Linked DNA regions of Homo sapiens. The protein of the gene in region 2 purifies or fractionates together with the protein of the main gene of each other region. This does not show direct contact. Each region holds a gene or a part of one and is shown on either strand. Other genes may lie near its edges.

What was found.
Region 1: the proteins of ACTRT2 (region 2) and ACSL4 purify together in Homo sapiens (affinity purification with mass spectrometry; one large-scale study listed by BioGRID and IntAct). This does not show direct contact.

The regions. Positions count from the first base shown.
Region 1 is NC_000023.11:109,684,758-109,688,257, forward strand, and holds part of ACSL4 (long-chain-fatty-acid--CoA ligase 4), read right to left. Parts: intron 688-3,500; exon of another isoform or gene 670-687; intron 1-669. UniProt on the Homo sapiens protein: Catalyzes the conversion of long-chain fatty acids to their active form acyl-CoA for both synthesis of cellular lipids, and degradation via beta-oxidation. Preferentially activates arachidonate and eicosapentaenoate as substrates.
Region 2 is NC_000001.11:3,019,995-3,023,403, reverse strand, and holds ACTRT2 (actin-related protein T2), read right to left. Parts: upstream 1,938-3,409; 5' UTR 1,718-1,937; coding exon 584-1,717; 3' UTR 501-583; downstream 1-500.

The DNA of each region.
Region 1 (3,500 bases), on a different chromosome or scaffold from region 2:
TGTTGGGCATCTAGAAATGAAAGAGGAATGGAAGGTATTCCAGGCTCAGGGACCATATGAAAAAAGATACGAAGGTGGGAATGAAAGGACTTTGGGAGAATAGGAAGTACCAATAGCAAGGACACTAGTCTGACTGGGGCACAGCATACACTAAATACGCTAAATACGCTTGACTAAATACGCTACGGTAGTTACAAAATCTAACAAATCAGGCAAAGTAATTTTGATTGGATTATGTGGAAAGCTGGGGGCTGCTGCAGGTTAGAAAAACAGTGCCATTGGAAAGAAACCGCAGAAACAGGCTCAAGAATAGTAATATTTCTTTTCTTTCTTTTTTTTTTTTTTTTTTTTTTGAGACAAGGTCTCACTTTGTCACACGGGCCAGAGTGCAGTGGCATGATCTCAGCTCACTGCAACCTCTGCCTCCCGGACTCAAAAGATCCTCCCACCTCAGCCTCCCGAGTAGCTGGGAACACAGATGTGCATCACCATGCCTGGCTAGTTTTTTTCCATTTTTTGTAGAGACGGGGTTTTGCCATTGTTGCTCAGGCTGTTCTCAAAATCCTGGACTCAAGCTATCTGCCCTCAATGGCCTCCCAAAGTGCTGGGATTACAGGCGGGGGCCACCACACCCGGCCCAAGAATAGGAACATTTTTTAAGGAGCTTACCTTCAACTGAGAAAGCTACTTCGGTGAGTTGTAGCATATTTCAACCAGAAAAATCAAAATATTAGTTCACTTTGAAGAGACAAACTGAAGCCCATCCTTCTGCAACTTTTGTAGAAACAGACTGACAGACTTAATTCAATTGACCCCAGGCTAGTTGATTGTTTTTATACCATCTAATATAAAATGGTAGCTTAATCCTGCCTGTGCCTTTGTTCATGTAATTTAGTTGAGTACAGTGAAATGAGAAAGAAACTGGAAGTCACTGGGTGTCAATCCTCATCTCTGCCCCTAACTGGCTGTGTAACCTTGAGCAAACCATCTACCTCAGTCTGGGACCACACTAGATCAGCAGGCCTTAACCTCTTAGAGATGATGGGCCTTTTTGAGAATGAGAACGAGGAACCCAATTCCCCTCAGAAAGACATGCTAAATGATACACACAATGTCAAGTGATTCACAAGTTCCTTGAAATCCATCCATGAACTTCAAAGGGCAACAACCCTGAACTAAAAATGTCTGGCCTAGGTGATTCTTAGGGCCTTTCCAGCTTTAAATTCTATGACTTACCCTACTTGGAAAGTACCTTCTTAGTCTCTCGGACAAGTCTGGTCATTCATTTCTTCAAGATAAGGTATGTCATGTCAAGGGTTTATCATAATGCTGAATGTAAGATCCCCTCTAACAATCCTCTCCTCCCACTGAAGATTTCATGGCTACCCAAGTCCAGAACAATCTTTACTTTTTCTAATTTCACACATCATTAGCAATATCTACCACTCAATCTGATACATGATTATACTACCATCACTTCCAAACTTCTGGGTACCACAGTATAGAACACGGACCAGTAGTTCTCAACCATATCAAACCCAGTACCTCTTTCTTATGACAAATATTTTGTGATACCTCTTCATCAACATCAAAGGATAGTCATAATCTACCAACACACCATTTTAAAAAATGATTTCTTACTGGTAATATAAAAGAGTACCATAAAGAAACTAATTTAAAATTTAACAAAATACTTGTTTCAATACATACATTCTCAGAGACAATATTAGCAGACATAAAAGCATGTCTTCAGATTTATAAAATGCCCCTAAGGGGTGAGTACCACCTTACCCTCAATTGAGAAATCTTCAGGCTTAAGGCTGAAAATATATAAAGAAACAGAAAATAGCTTTTGAAGAGCCTGTACTTTAGTTGGATTTAAAATGCATTGTATGTTTTTTAGTTATTGATGTTACATAAATTTAATCTTTTATACATATTTGCCTTAAGTCTTAGAGAAAGAGAAATGCTTTCTAGGTAATCCTCATAGTGCTTAGTACAGACACACACACACGCATGCACACACACACACACACACACACACACACAGTAGGCAAGGCTCAAAGAACATTCAGGTGAGAAGAAACCAGAGAGATCATTTAGTCTAGAGGTTTTCAAATTCTTTCTGCAGGTAGTGAGGGGGTCATGGGTCATCCATTTGAATAAAATCTTATATAGATATAAAAACACAAGCGTAGATGAAAGCAAAAAGCATAGCTGCTCTGGTAGAGGAGGCTATGACAGCCCCTGAAGGGACTCCTTGGAACTTCCAGTTCAGCTGAATATTTGAACCACTGATATTGTCTGAGCCCTCATCTTACAGAGAAGCAAATGAATGGCAGAGCACAAATCGAGCACCCAGTGCTCTTTCAAGTACACTAGCCAGCCTCTGCCCAGTTTTGCCTATCATCTTAAACTATAATACTTCCTTGTCAGGGGTTATACTCAGTCTATTGATAAATTCATTTCAAAAAAGATTTAAACATTTCATTTCACTTCAAAAAAAGAAGAGTTGGTGGTAAGGGTATGATGCTGAGCATCGTACCCATCATTAGGCAAAATATAATGTCTCATAAGAGAAACAACAAAAATTTTCTAGGCTAACAGATCTGGGTTTAAAATGTGGTTCTATGCAGCCATAAAAAACAATGAGTTCATGTCCTTTGCATGGAGATGGATGAAGCTGGAAACCATCATTCTCAGCAAACTAACACAGGAACAGAAAACTTAACACTGCATGTTCTTACTCACAAGTGGAAGTTGAACAATGAGAAAACATGGACACAGGGAGGGTTACATCACACACAGGGGCCTGTCAGGGGATGGAGGGCTAGGGGAGGGATAGCATTAGGAGAAATACCTAACGTAGATGATGGGTTGATGGGTGCAGCAAACCACCATGGCACGTGTATACCTATGTAACAAACCTGCACGTTCTGCACATGTATCCCAGAATTTAAAGTATGATTTAAAAAAGAAAGCTCTATATTAGTGGCTTCATCTGTAAAACAGGAATACTGCTTATATTACCTACTTTATAGTGCTTTTGTGAGAAACCTTTGTCTTCTTCCTCTTAAATTCCATAGGCAATCATACTCAGTCCCTCTTGGTTGTCTCACTTGGTTGTACTTAATCATCTCAACCACAGCCTGGTTCTATCCTATCCAATTCTCCACCTAATCTGTACCTGTACCTATGCAGCTGAATTTGCTGTGAGAAACACATGACTGTGTTGAGTGTCTCACTTTAAACTTGTGATTGCTACCTCAAATGGACTCTCCCTGATGCAGAGAGACCACACCGCACTAGTCCACTCACTGGCCCACTCCTCTGGATTTCATACTTTACTCTCTTCAGACCACCAACATTCCTCATCCAGACTTATTCTCAGCAGCTGACCTATTTTGCAGACAAAACAGCAACAATCCAAAGATAATTTCCACAGACTCTCACTGCTACATCTACCCACCTAATCAAATCTGTGGCCACATGCTGTTTTC
Region 2 (3,409 bases):
CACTTGCTAAGCAGAAGTGTTGATTCTTTGTACTTCCTTTGGGAGCAGGACCCCTGAGTTTAGAGGGCCCTAAACAAACGGTGACTTCTGTTCCCGTCTGTTCCTATCTGCTGAGAGCGGCAGCTCCACCCTGTTCAGCCGCCCGGCCTCACACAAGCAGAGCCCCGGCCCTGGCATGCTAGGTAGGGCCCACACAGGGAGGGGTTTCTTGCTGAGCCGTCAGAACCTGGTGCACGCGCTAGTCCCCACCATCCCTGCCGACTCTCTCAGCCCACCTAAGACCCTTGTTTAGAATGCGGACTCCAGCGCCCTATTCACCTGAGGCCCAGGGCCCTACTTTCATACAAACTGCAGATGGACACAGCCTGGCCTCAGCCCAGGCTTTCTTGGGAGGAAGCGAAGGGGAGCGGGTGTGGACCAAGACACTTCACAGATTCACTGTCAGGGCCAGAAATGACTCTGCCGCCCCCAAGAAGGAACTGAGCCGAGGTGGCCAGGTGTTCCGGCATTGGTCCTTTATTGAACATCCTCCCAAAGCTGGGGCTAGGGTTCACCCCCCACGGTACCCAACGAGAAGCGGCCTTCAGAAGCATCTTCTCTGCACCACGGAGGTCCCAAACTCCTTGAAGTCTGCGGCGGTGACCCACATCTGCTTGAAGCTACTCAGAGAGGTGACGATGGAGGCTCCAATCCAGGTGGAGAACCACCGGTCGGGGGGAGCCGTGATCTTGATGGGGGTGTCCTTGGAGGCCAGCTGCTCCAGCTCCTTGAGAAGCCGGTCATCCAGCCCGTGGAACAGGGTAGTGCCCCCCGACAGCACAATCTCCCCAAAGAGGATCTTCTGGATGTCGGTATCACACTTGGTGATGCTGCTGGAGACCATATTCGAGAGCCCGGGGCTCTGGCTGCCCAGCTGCTGGGGCACGAACAGGGCCTCGGGCGCCTGGTGCAGCGGGTCCCCGAGGCTGATGATGTTCCCGTCGGGCAGCTTGTACTCCCTCAGGACCTCCTCCGGCCTCCGGGAAAGCTCCTTCTCGGGCTCCAAGGCCACGTAGCACAGCTTCTTTTTGATGTCGTCCACGAGACCCTTGTCCAGCTGGCAGGGGAAGGTGTGGCCGCTGGCCAGGAGCAGCTGCATGAGGAGCTCCGTGATGTCCCTGCCCGCCACGTGGAGCTTGGTGACTGCGTGGGGCAGGGAGTAACCCTCAAAGATGGGGACAGTGCAGGTGACCGCATCCCCGCTGTCCACCACCAGGCCCGTGACACAGGCAGAGGCGTAGAGAGCCAGCACCGCCTGGTCCGACAGGTAGAAAGCGGGCACGCCGAAGTTCTCGAACATGACTTCTGCCATCTTCTCACGGTTCTCCCTGGGGTTCAGGGAGGGCTCCGTTGCAAGCAGGGGCTGGTCGCTGGGTTTCACGCCTAGCTCCCACTCAAAGAGGTGCTTCCAGAGTCTCTCCACGTCATCCCACCCTGTGATCAGGCCACGCTCGAAAGGGGAGTGCAGCTGCAGGGCCTCCTGCTTGTACAGGGCCTCCTCCCCCACAAAGTACTTCTTCTGGTTGGCCTCTGCTGAGGGAGCCTGGAATTTCAGGTGCCCCACGATGGAGCTGACCATGTGCCGGGGTCCAAACTCCCCAGACAGGCCCGCTTTGCAGAACCCCGAGCCATTGTCAAAAATCACAGCCGGGGAGTCTAAAGCGTGCGGATTAAACATGCCCGCAGCCTTCCCTTCTCAGCCTCATCAAAATAAAGACCAGCCCTCCAGGGCCGCTTTGTGATGCAATAGGGGATCCCACAGCTCTTCCCACAGCTCTCGGGGTGTCTCAAGGCAGGGCTAGCACCGTGCCCGGGAGCCCTGCATCCTCAGCCGCAGGTCTGCTCTCCCTCCAGGTGGCCTGGGCCTGCTGAGGCCTCTTCCAGGGGGCCAGGGGGTTGTCTCCTAGGTAACAATCTAGCCAAGGCAACGATTGTCCTGAGCCTCAGAGGCCCTGGGGGTGGGGCTCTGAGTCCCCCATCCCCCACAGGGTGAGGTGAGAGAGAGAGAGAGAGACAAGTGCATCCTAGGGCGGTGCTGGACAAGCCTGTGGGCTGAGGCAGAGACTTAGCTTTAGAGTGGAGAGAAGCAGCCCAGCCTGCGTGCACCCTAGAAAACCAGCTTCTCTGGCCCCTGAGCTGCAACTTCTGGGGTGACAACACTTCCCTTTGCTAAGGGGGAAAACCAAGCACCAGGTCGGAGGGGTGTTGTAAGCAGTTCTGTCCCAGCAGGCACTTAGAATGTGCTTTTGAATAGTGATTCCCCCAGGAAGCTCTCAGGGATTTCTCCTCCCTCCATCCCATTAGTCCTGGCTGTCTGTCCCACTGGGTAGACCCTATTCAAAGCCCTCTGGGCTGCTGGCCCTTTGTCCAGGAATACATCTCTGCTCTGGCTTGAGGCCAGCACCCCTCATTCCTCTCTGCAGACTCTGAAGTGCCAGCACACAACAAAGTCCAGCAGCCATAGAGTTGGGAACCCAACAGCCCTGAAGATATGGCCTGCTGGTTTCACATGGGTAGCCTGGATTGCAGCCTGTGACACCTCTCTGTGTCTATGAGCTGCCACACAGTCAGGCCACAACCACAGAGCAATGCTCAGAGGTGACCAGGCCATTAAAGGTCAAGGCCTGAGCATGACCAGGAAGGAGGCACCGGGCCAGGCCAAGGGCACCCACAACAGTGCACGCCCGGCACTCAGACCCCCGCTTTGTCTTCCGCTTGGGGAGAAAGTGGGAGGGGATCCAACCTGGGAACCAGCTTCACTTTTTTCCTAAGGAGGTTGGAGGTGGCCTTGGAGAATGTGAGGTTTATTCTACCTCTCCTGTCATATCCACAATCATGCTCCAGCCCAGCTTGGCCCCCCAGAGTTCTCCCAGAGGACGCCTCCCGGGGTCACTCCCTTCCTGGAGCCCCTCAGCTCCTGCTGGTGGCCCCCTCTGTGTGTCCTGCCTGCCCTGCTGACCCACCAGCAGGCATTAATCCGATGGTGGTGTAGACACATGTTGTAGATGGGCAGTCTAGACACGTGGTACAGACATGTGGTGTAGACACGAGGTACAGACGCATATGGATGTGCCGTGTAGATGCATGGGATAGATGGGTGGTGTAGACACGCGCGGTACACTCGTTGTTGATGTGTGGTGTAGATGTGTCTTGTTGACACGTGGTTTTGTGGGCCCCACTAATCCCTGGGTGGTAGTCAACAAAAACTTGATTATTGAAGGATTTTCCTAGAGGGGACCCCCCCAGAGGGAAACTGAGTCAAAAGCGTGCCAGGGCAGGTGTGGCTCTTAAATCTCCATTTCTCTGGAAACTGTGGCAGCCACCACACAGCTTGCTTGCAGTCGTCTCAGAGACCCCGGGCTCCCTGAGG